Linked DNA regions of Homo sapiens: region 1 is linked to region 2. Evidence: fine-mapped expression QTL. Tissue or cell type: whole blood. Region 2 holds a variant in brackets; the other region holds the start of a gene. All regions are shown on one strand. Distances are from middle to middle.

Region 1 (8,101 bases), 34 kb after region 2:
CACCTCACCTGCCCTCTCAGTATACATCTGCTTAGCCCATCTGCCACGGCTCAGCATCAACAGCACCTCCCCCAGGAAGCTTTCCCAGACTGCTCCCTTCCCTCAGCTCTATCCTCTCTTATCCAGCGACAAAAGATCACACTCATCAAGCACGGATTAAATCCCAGGTCCTGGGTGCAGGGTGCCCTAAGCACATAAGCTCTGATCCTGGGCCCCACAATCAGTGGGAGACAGTGCGAGGCCATGAGGCCAGCACAGGGACAAGAGGACAGCCGTTCTGGGCAGGGCAGGGTGGGATCTGGCCCCCCAGGAACCAGCCACATGACCTGGGCAAGGTGCTTGGGCTACCCGTCCCTCCTGATTAAATGAGATGTGTGTCAAGTGCTCACCCAAAAGCCGTGGAGATGCCCAGTAAACACAGCCTATCACTGTGGTCCTTGTTGTATAGACAAGGAAACTGAGGCTTCCACAAGCAGAGTGGCTAGTACAGTATCACAGAGCCACAGCGAGGCTTTCAAAAGCGGAGTGGCTAGTACAATCTCACAGAGCCACAGCGAGGCTTCCACAAGCAGAGTGGCTAGTACAACCTCACAGAGCCACAGCGAGGCTTCCACAAGCGGAGTGGCTAGTACAACCTCACAGAGCCACAGCGAGGCTTCCACAAGCGGAGTGGCTAGTACAATCTCACACAGCCACAGCGAGGCTTCCACAAGCGGAGTGGCTAGTACAATCTCACACAGCCACAGCGAGGCTTCCACTAGCGGAGTGGCTGGAGCAATGTCACAGAGCCACAACGTAGGAGGCTGGAGCCACACCTGAGTCGGCCAGCTGCCAAAGACAGCTTGCTTCCTTCTAACTCTTGGACAACGGCATTTGTCCCCTTTAACGTCCACCATTGAGGATGGTCCTGTGTCCCGCAGGGGGATCTGTGTCTTACTCCGTGTCTTATTCACCTCTGCGACACCTACTATAGGTCCCCATCAGTCCCACAGTGCATCCAGCAGACTGTGCACTTGAGGGCGGGGCTATTTCCAGCAAAGACCCTGCACACAGCAGCCTCAGGAATCCATGGCTCTGACTGGCTGGACCCTGGGCTGAGGCAAGGACCACTTCTGATGCATCTCTGGGTCCCAACACTATCCACTGCAAGGCCTCGAAACAGGGGGGCCAGATGGGACCCCCATTTAGCACAAGAGAGACGTCCACACTCTGTGAGCCCAAAGGGAGAAGGCTCAGGCCACGGCAGAGACGGAACCAGGAAAACGTCACGAAAAACAGCCTCAAGTTGCCAGGTCCCTTGCAGGAACAGACAGGCCTGGGGCCGCCCCACCTGGGCTCAGAGCTTGGGCTGGTTTCTCTGCAGCTGTAAGGTGACAGCTCTGGGCTCCTGGGACAGGGCCACTGACACTGGAGGTGTGACTGCTCGAACTCCACACCTGCCTTGCTCTCCCTGATGCTGGGTGAGTGAGGCCTCCTTGGGGGTTGCATGGATCTCAGCACTCAACTTCCGAGCCACTTGTGCTTCTCCCACTATGCTGGGGTTCCCCTGAACCAGCCAGCAGCCCTGCGTGTAGGAGTCCTCGTGGACAGTACACCCCACTAGGCAGGGAGTCCAGCGTCTCCAAGCCAATGACTAACACCTAGAGGACTTCGGAACAGCCTTTGTCCCCCTAGACCCCAACCTGGGGGCGGAAGGGGGCGGTTGTGATGGTCAAGGGTCTGGGCTCTGGAATCGCAGTAGACACAGGTTCTGAAGCTGCTGGGGGCCTTGGGCTAACAAGTGCCATCCAGAGCCTCCATCCCATACCCCTAAAATGGAGGTGACCACCTCCATCCCAGAGCCTTGAGAATTTAGGACAGTGAGGACCAGGCACTGGGCCAGGTTCCTGCAAAGTGTGCACCAGCAAGTGTTGTCGAATCTGCAGTTTCTCACACCACAGAGGCCCCAGCACCTGGCACAGTCCTCACTAGGCTGGAGGCCTCAGGATGCACCAGAGGACACACGAACGAGGTTTGGAAAGGCCTGTGAAACATGTCTGAGGATGGGTGTCCTGAGAGCTGTGTATGCCTAGTAACAAAAGACCTCCCAGGGCAGCCAGGCAGTTGCTGGTGGCCTTGAGCTGTGACCCCTGCCATTCCCTGCCCAGAGCCCACTGTCATCCTCCCTTAAGTACCAGGTTCCTGGTAGCCAATCCTTCCTCTCTATCTTTCAAGACACAATACCTCCCCTGCACCACACACCCCTCCCTCAAGGTCAGAGCTCCCGGGAGCACTCTGGCAAATCTCCCCACCCCTCTGCCCAGTGTGAATGGGTCTCAGCTGCTCTGGGACAGGGACTGTATGATTCCTGCCAGGCTGCCCAGCACGGAGCACCACTCTACCTTGTGCTTGCACAGAAGGGCCTTGAGATCCCTCTCTTCACCCAGGCTGGGCCAGGCACCTCATCTGGGCCCTCACAGGACAGTGCTGTGCCAAGACCATGTGTGACCTCATGCCCAGCACAGGGCCTGGCCTGTGCAGCCGCCTGGATGGATTACATTTACTCAGGGAATTGTGAACTTGCTCTCGTTTTTAGACAACTGAAGGGAAATTGAACCTGGGAAAAGGGAAGTGACATGTCCAAGGTCACAGAAGTGGAAGAGACAGTGCCAAGGCCAAGGCCCAGGAAAGGGCCTGGCTCCAGAGCCCTTTCCATTTACTTTACACCCATCTGTTGAGGTCTGCTCTGGCTCTAAAATGAAAGCATTAAGAGCCTTCCCGCTGAGGTCAATACTATTATTACCACTCCCACTCTGTCCTGGTGGAAAGTAAGGCACTGAAGTTACTCGTCTAAGGCCACGAAGGTGAGTGGTGGGGCTGGGACTTGAACCCAGGCCTGCCCAGTCCCAGAGCTCTTGGGGAATACAACCCAGTGCCTGCACACACTCTGGCAGTGCACCAGGGAGGGGCCAGGCCGGGTGCCCGGATGGATGGATAAGACATGAGATAAGCAAGCAGGAATCTGATCTGGATGTTCTCTGAGGCCGTGCGTGGCCGGAGGACCACAGGGACTGCGCAGAGGCAGGCAGGTGAATGTCAGCAGCGTTTAGCCAAAGAGGCTTACGGTCTTCAGAGGAGCTAAGCCAGGATCAACGCAACTGTGCTTCCCGGCGCTGGGGTCAATCGGATCCCCAGATGGGTTCTAAGCACTGCGCAACATGGGACCTGGGAGCAGGACACCGCAAAGAGCAGACCAAGCCATTCCTTCCCTAAAGCCCTGACCATCCCCCGGACTGGGCTGGGTCAAAATGCCTTCCCTGGCTCCCACAGCCCCCAGACCTCTCCATCAGGGGTCTGGTCACCTTGGATGGCGACTCTGTCGCCCGGGTCTCAGTCTCTGCCTTCCACCCAGACTCCAAGCCCTTGTTCATCTCCCTGCTCCCTGTCTCTAGTGCCCGGCACAGGGCCTGGCACTGGAAAAACTTCTGCCTCCACTCACTCCTGCCTTCTGTGTCTGTGGGTCACTTTTCTGTGCGACTCTGCAGGTCCCAGAGCACTCATCCACATGAATTGGGGTCAGCTCCCTGGACTGGGGGTCGGGGTGGGGTGTCAGGAGGGCGGGGCTCCACTCTGATCCACTCGGCACAGGGGAGGGAGGCCTCAGGAGTCGCCACCCGATCCAGTCCCCGCCTTCGCCCTGCCCCGTGGGCCACGCGGTGGCTGACCTTGGCCCAGTCACTTCCCCCGCTGGGGACGCGCTTCCTCCCCGCCTGCCGAGCAAGGACGAATGAATGGGCCTCCTGCCGGCCAGAATCCCCGTAATTACCCGCCTGATCAAAGGCCACGCGCAGCCCGCCCGGGGCAGCAACGGGACCCGGGCTGACTCGAAAAGGGGAAGGAAGGGCTGGGGGGGCCGAGGGCTGAGACCGTGCCCTCGGGGCCGCGGTATCCGGCCAGGCCAGCCCAACCGCGCGGCCCCTTCCCCCACCTGGGCCTCAACTTCCCCCCGAAGTCGCCACCACTTCCGGCCACGACCGGCGGAGTTGGAACTTCGGGGGGACGGACAGCGGCCCCACCCCCGACGGCCCGCAGCAGAGGGACCCCCACCGAGGCCCCCGCTCCTGCCCCCGCCACGCGCACGCGCGCGCCCTGGACCCGGACCCGCGCACGCGCACCCCCCCTCCAGCCCCGCTCGCCGCCCGCGGGCCGCCCGGGCGCGCGTCCCCTCCCACAGCTCTTCGGCGCGCACGCGCACTCCCCCCGCCCGCGTCACCCCGGCCGCGCGCCCACTCACGCCCCCCCAGCAGCGCGCACGCGCGCCCGCCGCCCAGTCGCGCTCGCCCTCCAGTCTCCCCACCCACCCCCAGCCCAAGCCCAGCTTCCCGAAGCGCGCGCCCACCTGGCCCCCAGCGCACGGCCCCCGCCCCCACCCCTCACCTCCTTGGTCCCGGGGCCGCCGCGCCGCACTCCTCCTCCTCTCTCCTGCCTCGCGGATGGTGGCAGCGGCGGCAGCGGCGACTCAGACCCTGGGGTCAGGGGGACGGGCGCCCAGGCCGGAAGTGACCTTCCCGGCCGCTTCCGCCCGCGCCGCTCCCCCCCTTCTCCCTACTCCCTGCCCCCCGGGCCGCCACCCTGTCCTCGCCGCTCTAGGAAGGCGAGCCCGCTATCCCGGCCACCGCCCCCAGCTCTGTGGTGCCCGGCGGGCGCCTGAGGGAGCCACTTCCGGAAGTGTCTAGGACGCAGGTCCTCCGTCCATGCTCTATGGCGCCCCGCGCCGAGGGGCTTCGGCCCCGCCCCCTTCCCGGACAGGAGGTGCGGGCTGGGCCCGTTAGGCGGAGACTTCCGGGTGTCTAGGGCGGTGCCCCCCCGACAACCCGGGCTCCTCGCGCCTGCGCGGCCGGGTCCCCGGGCCCGCCGTGAGGAGAGTGAAGTGGTGGAGAGGGACGCTCGTGCCACCCCGGGTCCTCCTACCGTCTCTATCATGGTAACCCCTTCTCTGCCGCTGCACCTCCCAGTGGCCCGAGTCCAGGTGCCTTAGTTACTGGACAGAGACCCCGGGTTCCTTAGTTACTGGACAGAGAGTGCTGCGCTTCAGGTGCCATGGCCTCAGTTTCCTCCTTTCTGAAGTGATGAAAATACATTGTGCGCCTCCAAGTGCTTCACACGCACTAGGTCCTAGTCCTAACTAGGGCCTCATGGTAGGTCCTATCCCTATGTTGCAGGTGAGGAGTCAAATCACCTACCAAAAGTCACACACCCGGAATGCCAGAGCCTCGGCCCGAACCCATGGAGTTTGGCTCTAAATTCGTGTATTTAACCCTTGACTGTACACACTGCCTCGTGTCATAGCCCTGAGAATCCACTACTTCCCCCGCGTTAGGTAGGCACCTAGTAAGGACGCACTGGGTGTTAGCTGTTACTGTTGGTATTCTTGCAAAAAACACATATTTTAAAATAATTGTCCAAACCATAGTGTCCTTGTAGGCTGGTCCTTCTGGTCCTTCCTCTGTTCTGTACTTGGCTGACTCTCACCTAAGTGGCAGATGACTTATCGCTTATAATTGTTATCATCCTCACTGGTAGTCAGAAAAGATAAGAAGCTATAATTCACTGGTGGAATAACACCTTTCTCAGCCTCAATTTCTCATCTGTGGAATGGGAAAAAATAAGATAACCTGCAAGGTAATATGTGTAAGAGCTGCTTAGTTCAATACCTGGCCCATAGTAAGTTCACAAAAATGATGGTGGTTATTATTACCTATTAGCAGTGTTACATATAAGTCTATTGTTGTGGCCACTGTATACCCTCAAAGCTCAGTGAGCATCAATCATAAGATGTATATTATTGATTTAATAACATCTTTCCATGGGGTGGGGTGAACAGTGCTGTGTTAACTGTGTGTGTCAATAGGAGGATATCTGTGTCCCTCCTTCAGAAATATCACAAAGGTAAATTTTTAAATATATCTTAGAACAGAAGGAAGTGTGGCCGGGTGCAGTGGCTGACACCTGTAAATCTCAACACTTTGGGAGGCAGAGGCAGACGTCAGGAGGTCAGGAATTCGAGACTACCCTGGCCAACATAGTGAAACCCCATATCTATTAAAAATACAAAAATTAGCTGGGCGTGGTGGCGGACACCTGTAATCCCAGCTACTCGGGAGGCTGAGGCAGGAGAATGGCTTGAACCTGGGAGGCAGAGGTTGCAGTGAGCTGAGATCGCACCACTGCACTCTTGCCTGGGCGATGGAATGGGACTCCGTCTCAAAAAAAAAAAAAAAAAAAAGAGAGTGAAGTGCTATCATAACAGCAATAGAAACAAATTATTAGGGTACAAACTCTACACGAGGAAACCTGTTTATAAGAAAAGTCATGTGCTTGTGCTCCTCTGAATCAGATCATTCAGTGGGTGTCCTGCAGTGACCTGGTTGTTGGGAGGGACAGCCTCCTCCCTCTCCAGCCCATTCCCCTTCTTCGCTGGTCAAATTGACAACGGCAAGATCGAGAACAGCTCATTGGCACACCAGATGGAAGCCAACACTGAGGATGGAGGAGAAACAAGACACAGGGAGCCAGCTAGACACTGGATGGCTTCGTGAAAGAGGCTCCGTGCCAGCTGAGATTTTATGTGAGAGAAATCACTTTCTAACTCACTGAAACCATTGGTAATTCTGAGTCTCTCCCTTAAGGCAACCCAACCAATACCAGGATGTTTCCCAAACATGGGATGGGTTGCAGCCGACATGGCTTAATTGACAATTAACATCTGTTCTTCCCTTCCGCAGTACAAAATCACTCTTGGGATGCTGCTTCCCATCGATGGATTCTGTTTTCCACTCCTCTTGGCATCTAAGTGTGGCCTTGTGATTGGTTCTCACCAATGGGATGGGATGGAAGCGATACAGGCCTCTTCCGAGCCAATGCTCTTAAGAAACATGTATGTTGGCCAGGCACGGTGGCTCACGCCTATAATCACAGCACTTTGGGAGGCCGAGACGGGAGGATCAGCTGAGTCCAGGAGTTCGAGACCAGCCTGGCCAACATGGCGAAACTCCATCTCTACTAAAAGTACAAAAATTAGCCAGGCGTGGTGGGCGCTTATAATCCCAGCTACTCCGGAGGCTGAGGCAGGAGAATTGCTTGAACCTAGGAGGCAAAGGTTGCAGTGAGCCGAGATCCCACCACTGCACTTCAGTATGGGCAAAAGAGTGAGACTCCATCTCAAAAAAAAAAAAGAAACATCTGCCTGCTTCCTGCTCTTTCAAGGCCCTAAAGAAAGAGGGGAGCCCCAAGAAACCTGGGTCCCTGAATGACCACCTTGTGGAAATACATCCTGTCACCTAACATCTATCCTAGATTGCTACATGATCAAGAAATACACATCTAACTTGTACACCCAATGCTCATAGCAGCATTATTCACAATAGCCAAGAGGTGGAAGCAACCCAGTGTCCATTGACAGATGAGCGAATAAACAAAATGTGGCACATAAATGCAATGGAATAGACCAGACGCGGTGGCTCACATCTGTAATCCCAGCACTTTGGGAGGCCAAGGCGGGCGAATCACCTGAGGTCAAGAGTTTGAAACCAGCCTGGCCAACATAGTGAAACCCTGTCTCTACTAAAAATACAAAAAATTAGCCAGGCGTGGTGGCGGGCGCCTGTAGTCCCAGCTACTTGGGAGGCTGAGGCAGGAGAATCACTTGAACCCAGAGGCGCAGGCTGCATTGAGCCAAGATCATGCCACTGCACTGCAGCCTGGTAAACAGAGCCAGACTCCGTCTCAAAAAATAAAAATAAATAAATAAATACAATGGAATATTTTTTAGCCTTAAAAAGAGAGAAAATTCTGACACAGGCTACAACATGGATGAACCTTGAGGACATTATGCTAAGAGAAGCAAGCCAGTCACACAAGAACACATACTTTATGATTCCACTTATATGAGGGACCTAGAGAAGTCAAATTCATAGAGACAGGAAGTAGAATGGGGGGTGCCAGGGGCTGGGGGGAGGGGAATGGGGTGTTAGTGTTTATTGGAGACAGAGTTTCGGTTTTGCAAGATGAAAAGAGTTCTGGAAATGGATGGGGGTGATGGGTGCACAAGACGTCAATAGGT
Region 2 (8,101 bases):
GGCCTCCCAAAGTGCTGGGATTACAGGCATGAGCCACCGCACCCAGCCTGATAAATTTACGTTTTAAACCCACTTGTAGATTCACTGAGTATTTCAAGGGATAATGCAGGAAGAAGAATGAGGAATTTGGGAGTTGAGATTTGGTAAGTAATCTCTTCCTCAAAGTATCCATTACTTTTTTTAAAAAAATCTTATTTGTGACCAAACATCAATTGCTGATCCAAATCCCCCTGCCAGAGTCCCCACCAGCCTGAATGAGGCTGTCCGTCCACAGTCTACTTGCTGTCATGGCTAGTGGCCACCCCACTTCACAAGCATCCCATAAGGTACAGATAGACTGATCTAAGTGTTGGCATTAGATTCTGACTATTAAGCTCTGCTACTTATCAGCTGTGAGAGCCTGGAGGACTATTTAACCTCCCCAAAGCCTCTGTTCCCTTATCTGTAAAATAGGAACAATACCCTCTTCGAACTGATCGGGAGGCGTTAAAAGGGAACGCGTATGGATTAAACTGAGCTCCATCATCCCAGACTCAGCTGTGGGGGTGGGGGTGGGGGGTGGGGTGGGGGGGGGGGGGGAATCTCTGTCCATGGTGCTGAAAGACCGGCGCCAGAAAATAGGGAATTTCTGGATAGACTTGTCCATCAAGGCAGGAGAGGAGGCAAAATCAATGGTGCCAGAGGCAACTCCGTCCCCACCCACAGCCTCTTTGAGTGGTAGATATGAGGGGAAGGAGGGTGGATGTATACCACAGACACACACATACCCACATGCGCACAGACATACATATGCACAAAGATACAGATGCACCATCCACACAGACATGCATTCATACATGCAGAGACACACACAATTCACATGCATGCACTTCTCTAAGGATGGCCTGGAGTACACCAGCCCAAGATGCTCTATAAATGGAAGGTTTTCTGACAGAACAAGTTCAGAAAATGCTGCATGTTTTCACCTACCCCTGCCCTGGCCCCCAGCCCCACCCGGGTATACAGAATCATAGTGGAAAGTTCTGAGCCGGGTGGGTGTGGGGGGCTAGTTTTATAATTCATCCAGTCGACTAAATCTTGGCTCAGCACCTTCCACCTGCCAAGTACTGTTCTGTGTATGAGAAAATTTCAATCCGGCAGGGTGCAGTGGCTCACACCTGTAATCCCTGCACTTTGGGAGGCCAAGGTGGGTGGACTACTTGAGGTCAGGAGTTCAAGATGAGCCTGACCAATATGGTGAAACCCCATCTCTACTAAAAATACAAAAGTGAGCCGGGTGTGGTGCTGGGTGCCTGTATTCCCAGCTACTTGGGAGGCTGAGACAGAATTGCTTGAACCCAGGAGGCAGAGGTTGCAGTGAGTCCAGATTGCACCACTGCACTCCAGCCTGGGTGACACAGCGAAACTCCGTCTCAAAAAAAAAAAAAAAGAAAACTTGAATCCAGCATTTTCCCAGGTTATTTGAATACAAGATCCTGTTTTCTCCAAACATCTTAACAATATTCCCTGGAACCTACACTCTCCAGGCTACCCTTAGGGAAACGGGGCTGTATGGAATAAAATCATTTCCAGATCAACACTGCCTTCAGGCTGGGGAGTAAGCTGGGTGGAGGGTCCCTTTCCACTCACCTGTCTGGCCCTCACTCCCCCTGGGATTGCCTGTCACACCTGCCCCCTGCCCAGGACTCCTCCACCTCCTGCCTCCTGAGAGCCTCTTTTTGTCCCTTCAGCCCTTAGCTGTGTGTATCCCCTCCCAGCCCCCATGACAGCAGAGATTTGTGCCTGTTGAGGTCACTGCTGTGCCCCCATGCTTAGCAGAGTCCCTCACAGGAAAGAAGTGCCCGATAAACACCTAAGATTAAGTGGATTATCAACTCAGCAGGGGGCCGGGGGTGGGGGGCATGGGTGTCAGGACTTTAGATCCAGATTAAGGTTCTACCACTTTACAAACCAGTAGCCTGGGCAGGCTGCTTCCTCTCCTCGTACCAGCTTCAGCAGCAGCAGCCGAGGAATGATGGCAACCACACAGGGCCTTTGTGAGGACTGGACTCCGTAAGGGGCGTGAACGAGTCTGGGCGTGCCCTCCACCAAAGTGAGCATGAGAGGAATGGGGGCCGAAGGAACTTCTGCGGTCACTGCCAGGGTGGGTTTGTGAGCATGGAGCGGCCGCCTAGCCTCACCTTGCCGTGGGTGAGCAGCTCCAATGCAGGTGAACTACAGGGCCGACGGCAAGTGCCACAAGAACCCATGTTCCTTTCTTTACCTGGGACCCACGCCGTGCCTACTGGGCACGGAGCTGCTGCCCAAAACACATTTGTAGAATGAGTGAGTGAGGGGTGGGCAATGACTACCTGAGTGCATGAATCAGTAACGGACAGCGTGTGACACCAAAGCACAGGTCAGGTGTTGGGTCCGGTGCAGGCTGATGTCAAGGTGGTCATGTGAGCTCGCTCAGTTCTGTATTACAAAGTGGGATGAGTAGTGCAGAGCTGGGATTTGAGCCTGGCTCCTCGCCCCTGCATCTTTGCTCATGCCTGGGAGGGCAGCTCCAGTGAGTTAACACATGGCTTGGGGATTCCCCCCTCCACACACAGTCATACAAGGCAGGCAGGCAAGCTCTCCTTTCCACAGGGCAGGAAGCCAAGGGTCAGAGAGGTTAGTCCACTTGCCCAGGGTCACACAGCCTTAAGGGGCAGGGTGGAAACTTGCCCTGAATCTTTCTTGCTATAGGTGTCAGCTCCTGCCACCATATACTGGAGCAGGTAGAAGAGGCTGACCCGAGACTCAGTGTGCCCGACTTATGGGGCACCGAGCTGCCAATTCTACCAGACAGGGCACCTCCCATCCTCCCAGGCCTCCAGAAGTGCCCAAGGCCAGAGCTCCACAGAAGGACCCTAGGAGAAGTGAGCAATGCTTCCTCAGTCTTTGCTAACCCAGCCCACTCTGAACTGCCAAGGTTCACCCCCTCCTTTCGAGTGACCTGAAATTTCAAAAACTGACATGCAATACCAATTATCTAAGCAAGGCTCTGGCCACTTGAGAACACGCTTTTTTGATCCACAATCACTCCCTAGTCCTCTAACAAATCCTCCAGGATCTGTAGACCATCAGTGGCCCTGGTTTCTAAACCCCCTGCCTCCAGATGAGGCCCCAGGACCCTCCTCAAGCACATCAGGGTGTGAAAGGGCAGATTAAGGGCTCTAACTGGAAATCCGAATTTCTCCTTCAAGTCCCCCTCTACTATGAAACCCCCAAGTCAAAGACGCCTGCAGCTTGCCGCCTCCAATCGCTCCTGAGTAATCGCAGCCTTCAGCCAGGTTGAAAATACCCCTTTGGGACCCTCACTGCGGCCTCCCAAGGCCCCAGGAACATGGGTCCTCAGGACCTGGGCTGTGGGTCCAGGAAACCAGTCGCCATGGTCGAGCCCCCTTCTGATCATGAACAACAGCGCTCACCTGGCAGGGCGGCTGCAGCGGCTCTACCGGACCAAGCCCCTCGGGCACGCGCACTGCCTGAAATGCCCTAAGCGCTCGGCTGGACTGTGGCATACCCGCCCTCTCCCCCAGCCCCTGGCTGGCTCGTCTGCCTGGCCCCTGCAGCAGAGACAGCTGAGCGCACCATCCTCCTCCCGTAGGGGGCGGGGGGTCCTGTCCCCGGAGCGGCAGCCGCCGGGACCTCATCTCCCAGCCTCCTTCGCAGGGAGCCGCAACCACGGGACCAGCCCCGTGAACGACCCAGGTAGGGGGACGTGCGCCCTTTGCAGTCAGAGTCTCCCCCAGAAGCTGGAGGCAGGAGGAGGGTGCTTTTGGGGTTAGGGGCGGGGGCCACACGATAGGAGTGGAGGAAGCCAGCCGCCCCTGTGAGAGGGTGGTAGAAGCCGTGGGGGCTCCTTCCCCTGCAGCGGGCAGGCCTGGCCCTGACCAGTCCGCCCTGCCCCATCTACAAGCAGCTCCCAGGCCCTGTGAGTGCCCGCACCATAGTGAGGATATCCGCGGACAGGCCCCCCTGCCTAGAGCCCTCCGCGGGCGACCCAACGGGCCACTCCCGGGGCGCGGCTGACGCTCTGCTGATGCCCCGGCGAGAGCCTCCGTTTACCCCTCTTGCCCTTCTCCCTCCCGGACTCAAGAACCACGCAGAGGGGGACATTTGGATAGTGCCGTTTATTGTTCCAGCACCCCTTCCTCCACCACGCCCAGGCCTGGGACAAACGGGCACCCGCCTCCTGCGGCGCTGCCTCTGCTACCCGGAATCCAGGAGGGGAAGGAACGACTCGAGCTCTAAGGATGGGACCCGGAAGGCAGAAAAAAATAATGGATTGGGGCGGGCGGGGAGTCAAAAGGTGGGCTGATTAAAAGAAAATTCTAAAAGAGAAAAGGGCCCCTGGTTCTCTTCCCTCTCTGGGATCCTCTAAAGGGCCTGGTTTCTCCATTCCTCGCAGCACCCCCCACCCCCGCCCCGGACAACTGAGGAAG[A/G]GCAGGGAAAATGGCCTTCCGCTTGGGGCCTGGTCGCCACTCGGCCTCTGCAGTTCTCTCCATTGTCTCTCCGGCTCGCAGGCCGATAACTTAGGAAGGGCGGGCCAGGCTGAGGGGGCAGAGTCTCGAGGCGGAGAAGTGAACGGGCCCTAATACGCCCCAGTGCCCCCCCACGGACGGCGCAGGGACAGAGGAGGGCGGGGAGCCGGGGATGCCGCGGGGTCCATCGCACCCCGTCCGCTTCTCCCTGGGTCTCTTGGTCTTGCACGTCGTCGCTCCCGCCAAGCCCGAGGGGCCCTGCCCGCCCCCCCCCCCGGGCCCCTCCCCTACCGGCCCTCCCCACCGCGGCACTCGGGGCACCGCCCGCCCGCGGCCTCGTCGTCGTCGTCCTCCTCCTCCCCGCCCGCGCGGTAGTAGCTCTGTCCGCAGCTGCTGCAGACCGAGGGCGCGCCCACCGCGTGGATCTTCTTGTGTCTCCGGAGCGCGGCGCCCTGCACGAAGCCCTCCCCGCACTCCACGCAGATGTGGGCCGGCTCCTCGCCCCCCGCCGCCCCGAGCCCGTCCCCGTGCTGGGCCCGCTGGTGCGCCAGGAGCCCGGCCCCGTGCCCGAAGCCCTTCCCGCACTCCAGACACACGTACGGCTTGGGGGCCGGGGCGCGCCGCGACCGGGGCCCCGCGGCCTTTGCCCCCGCGCCCGCCATGGCTGCCGCGGCCGCGGCCCCCTCGCCCGGCGCGCCCACCACGATGATGCCCTCGCCATCGCCCACGGGGATGGCGATCTCGCCGTCCGCCGCCACCGCCTCTTCGGGCCCCTTGGCCCGCCGGACGCTAGCCGCCAGCACCTTGGCCGCCACGCCAGGCCCCGACAGCTCCGGGTGCAGCCGCAGGTGACGCGCGAGGCTCTTGGGCTGGCTGAAGCCGCGGCCGCAGCGCGGGCACACGAAGGGCTTGAGGCCGCTGTGCGAGCGCCGGTGCTTGGCCAGGCTCTTGCTCTGAGTGAAGCTGCGGCCGCAGTCGGGGCAGGTGTAGGGCTTCTCGCCCGTGTGGATGCGCTGGTGCTGCATGAGGTTGGAGCTCCAGCTGAAGCGCTTGCCGCACTCCAAGCAGGCGTAGGGCTTCTCGCCCGTGTGGATGCGCCGGTGCTGCACCAGGTGCGAGCTCTGCGAGAAGGTCTTGCCGCAGTCGGCGCAGGCGTTGGGCCGCTCGCCGGTGTGCGTGCGCTGGTGCCGCGTCAGCTTGGACCAGTGGCTAAAGCTCTTGCCACACTCGTTGCAGATGTAGGGGGCGGGCGGCCGCGGCCGGGGAGGCGGGCCGGCTGGGGGCGCAGACTGGGGCGGGGACAGCTTGGTGGGAGGCCAGCTGGGGACGTCGTCATCATCCATGATGAGGATGTCCACTGGAAAGCAAGAGGGTAGGGGGAGGTGAGTCAAGAGAGGCAAGGGCTCCACGCCTGCCTTGGCTGCTACGCTGGCCTCGGGTGCCTCGCTCCCCCTGGCGCAGGACCTGCCCTGGTGTCCTCAGAGTGTGCATCACTCCCTGCATTTTACTAAGTATTTATTACCCCTCTCCCCAGCTAAGACCTCAGCTCTGTGTGAGTTAAGACCCTCAGTTTACCCCCAACCTCTAGAACAATGCCCCAGACACAGAAGGCCTGGTCTGTAAACAACCAGGCAACATAAGAGGCATGGGCGAGGGGCGGGATCCACGGAAGGCTCCCAGAAAAGGACCCCGAAACCCAAAACACCAGCCTGGACGCCGGGGGCAGAGGATGAGGAAGGCTCACGGGCAAAGGTTCCACTAGGCAGAGGGGCCGCAGGGCTTGAATGCAGCCCTGGACACCTGGTCCTGAGCCAGGGAGTGGGTTTGGCACCCTGAAGACGTGCCCGCCAGGGAGCGATGGTGTCACATTCGGGCTCCAGGAAGACAATCCTGGCTGCAGACAGGTAATGGGATTGGAGATGAGCATGAAAGCCCCACCTCCGAACCTGGGAGTAAAACCTGGCTCAACGCCACCTCCATTACAGAGGCTATGGTCAGCCCCTGGTGTGGGGGCTCCTGTCTGCTCAGTGAGGACAATTCGGGCACACAGGGCTTTGCCTGCACATCTTTACACTGAGGACGCCCTTCCAGCAGTCAACGAGGCCTTTCACACTTCTGCACCAGGCCTGCCCCTGGGGGCTCTCCCGGGAGGGATGGGCTTGCCTCCTCCCCAGCTCATTCACTCCTGAGAAGGGTCCGTGTGCAGCTTCTACATTTGCTCTCCCTTGGGGCCTGGTCCAGAGCAACAGAATCAGGTGGGAGGGCCTCAGCAAGTGCATCTCTGACCCCCGTGGACACCCCAGGTGCACCCCACAGGGTTTTTTCAAAGCCATGAATCACAATTACAACGTTCTCACTCCTGACCTTACTAGACTGTAAGCTCCTAAGTCTCTATCCCAACACCTGGCACGGTGGTGCCCAGCACACAGAGCCCAAACACCCTCCCAGATGCCACGCTGGCAAACACGCAAGGAAGGGCCATGACGCCCCCCTGCGCTACACACTTCAGCGTCAGGTCCTCATAAGCTGGGAGCACAAAACTGAGCCTTTACAAGGGAGAAACTGAGGCACTAGGGAGTCGAGTCACAGCCCACAGCTACACGACTACAAAGTGGCAATGCCCAGAAGCGCATTAGTAGACTGGGTCCAAGAAACAGCCATCTACCACTAACTGCGGCCGCCCACCGCTAAATCCCCCACCCACAGGCAGCACACCCTACACGCTAAGGGAGTGCTCCACAAAGTGGGATCCTGCGACCAGTAGCATCGGCGCCACAGAGAACATATTAAAAACATTTATGCACTGCCCGGAGCGGTGGCTCACGCCTGTAATCCCAGCACTTTAGGAGGCCGAGGTGGGCAGATCACTTGAGGTCAGGAGTTCAAGACTATCCTGGCCAACATGGCAAAACCCCATCTCTACTAAAAACACAAAAATTAGCCGGGCGTGGTGGCGCATGCCTGTAGTCCCAGCTACTTGGAAGGCTGAGGCAGGAGAATGACTTGAACCCGGGAGGCAGAGGTTGCAGTGAGCTGAGATCACACCACTGCATTCCAGCCTGGGCGACAGAGCAAGACTCCATCTCAAAACAAAACAAAAACGCTTATGCTCAGGCCTCCCTCCAGACGCACTGTATGAGAAAGTGCCGGGCCGGGCCTGTGCTTCAGCAAGCCCCCCAGGTGATTCTGATGCCAGCTCCAGTGTGAGAATCACTATTCCAAGGCAGAGAGTATTCGAATATGGCTCTTGAACCTGCGGCAGAAGAAAACACTCCAGGTGAAGTCAGGAAGGGGGGAGCCTTCTGGAGAGATGGCATGGAGCCCACTGCGTTGTCAACATAAATCAAAAAATGTTGTAAGTTATAAGCACATTACTTAAAGATGTAGAGAGAATTAAAAACAAACATCAGAAGCTATTTGCCCCGGGGCAGTGTGACTGAAGGGGACAGAAAGGGACGGGCAGGAAAGAGATTTGTTGTCACCGTAAACCGAGCCATACTATCTGAACCTTACAAGTGCTTCTACGCCTTTAATTAAAATAACTGCTTTGTTTTCGAAGCTGTGAAGAAAGAAAGTGTAGCAATGCTCCC

Evidence for each region. PIP is the estimated chance that this variant, and not a neighbour inherited with it, causes the effect.
Region 1: it holds the start of ZNF787, and the variant in region 2 is fine-mapped to the expression of ZNF787 in whole blood (INTERVAL, PIP above 0.99).

What each region holds. Positions count from the first base shown.
Region 1 is chr19:56,116,756-56,124,856 of GRCh38, forward strand. It overlaps ZNF787 (zinc finger protein 787), which reads right to left and starts at 4,540. Exons shown (of 3, transcript NM_001002836.4): 1 at 4,417-4,540. LOC124904772 (a long non-coding RNA gene) reads left to right here and starts at 4,855. Exons shown (of 2, transcript XR_007067348.1): 1 at 4,855-5,177; 2 at 6,765-7,790. RefSeq lists enhancers at 725-1,440, 1,180-1,349, 3,585-3,879, 4,307-5,022 and silencers at 3,627-3,676, 3,757-4,076, 4,367-4,446, 4,457-4,576, 4,667-5,036.
Region 2 is chr19:56,083,225-56,091,325 of GRCh38, forward strand. ZNF787 (zinc finger protein 787) reads right to left here. Exons shown (of 3, transcript NM_001002836.4): 3 at 4,142-5,868. The coding sequence ends at 4,799. Among named protein-coding and RNA genes, the nearest start is that of LINC01864, 21 kb to the left of the region's middle. RefSeq lists enhancers at 1,787-2,288, 2,289-2,788, 3,124-3,723, 7,696-7,865, 7,995-8,101. The variant A/G (reference allele first, on the strand shown) is at 4,473.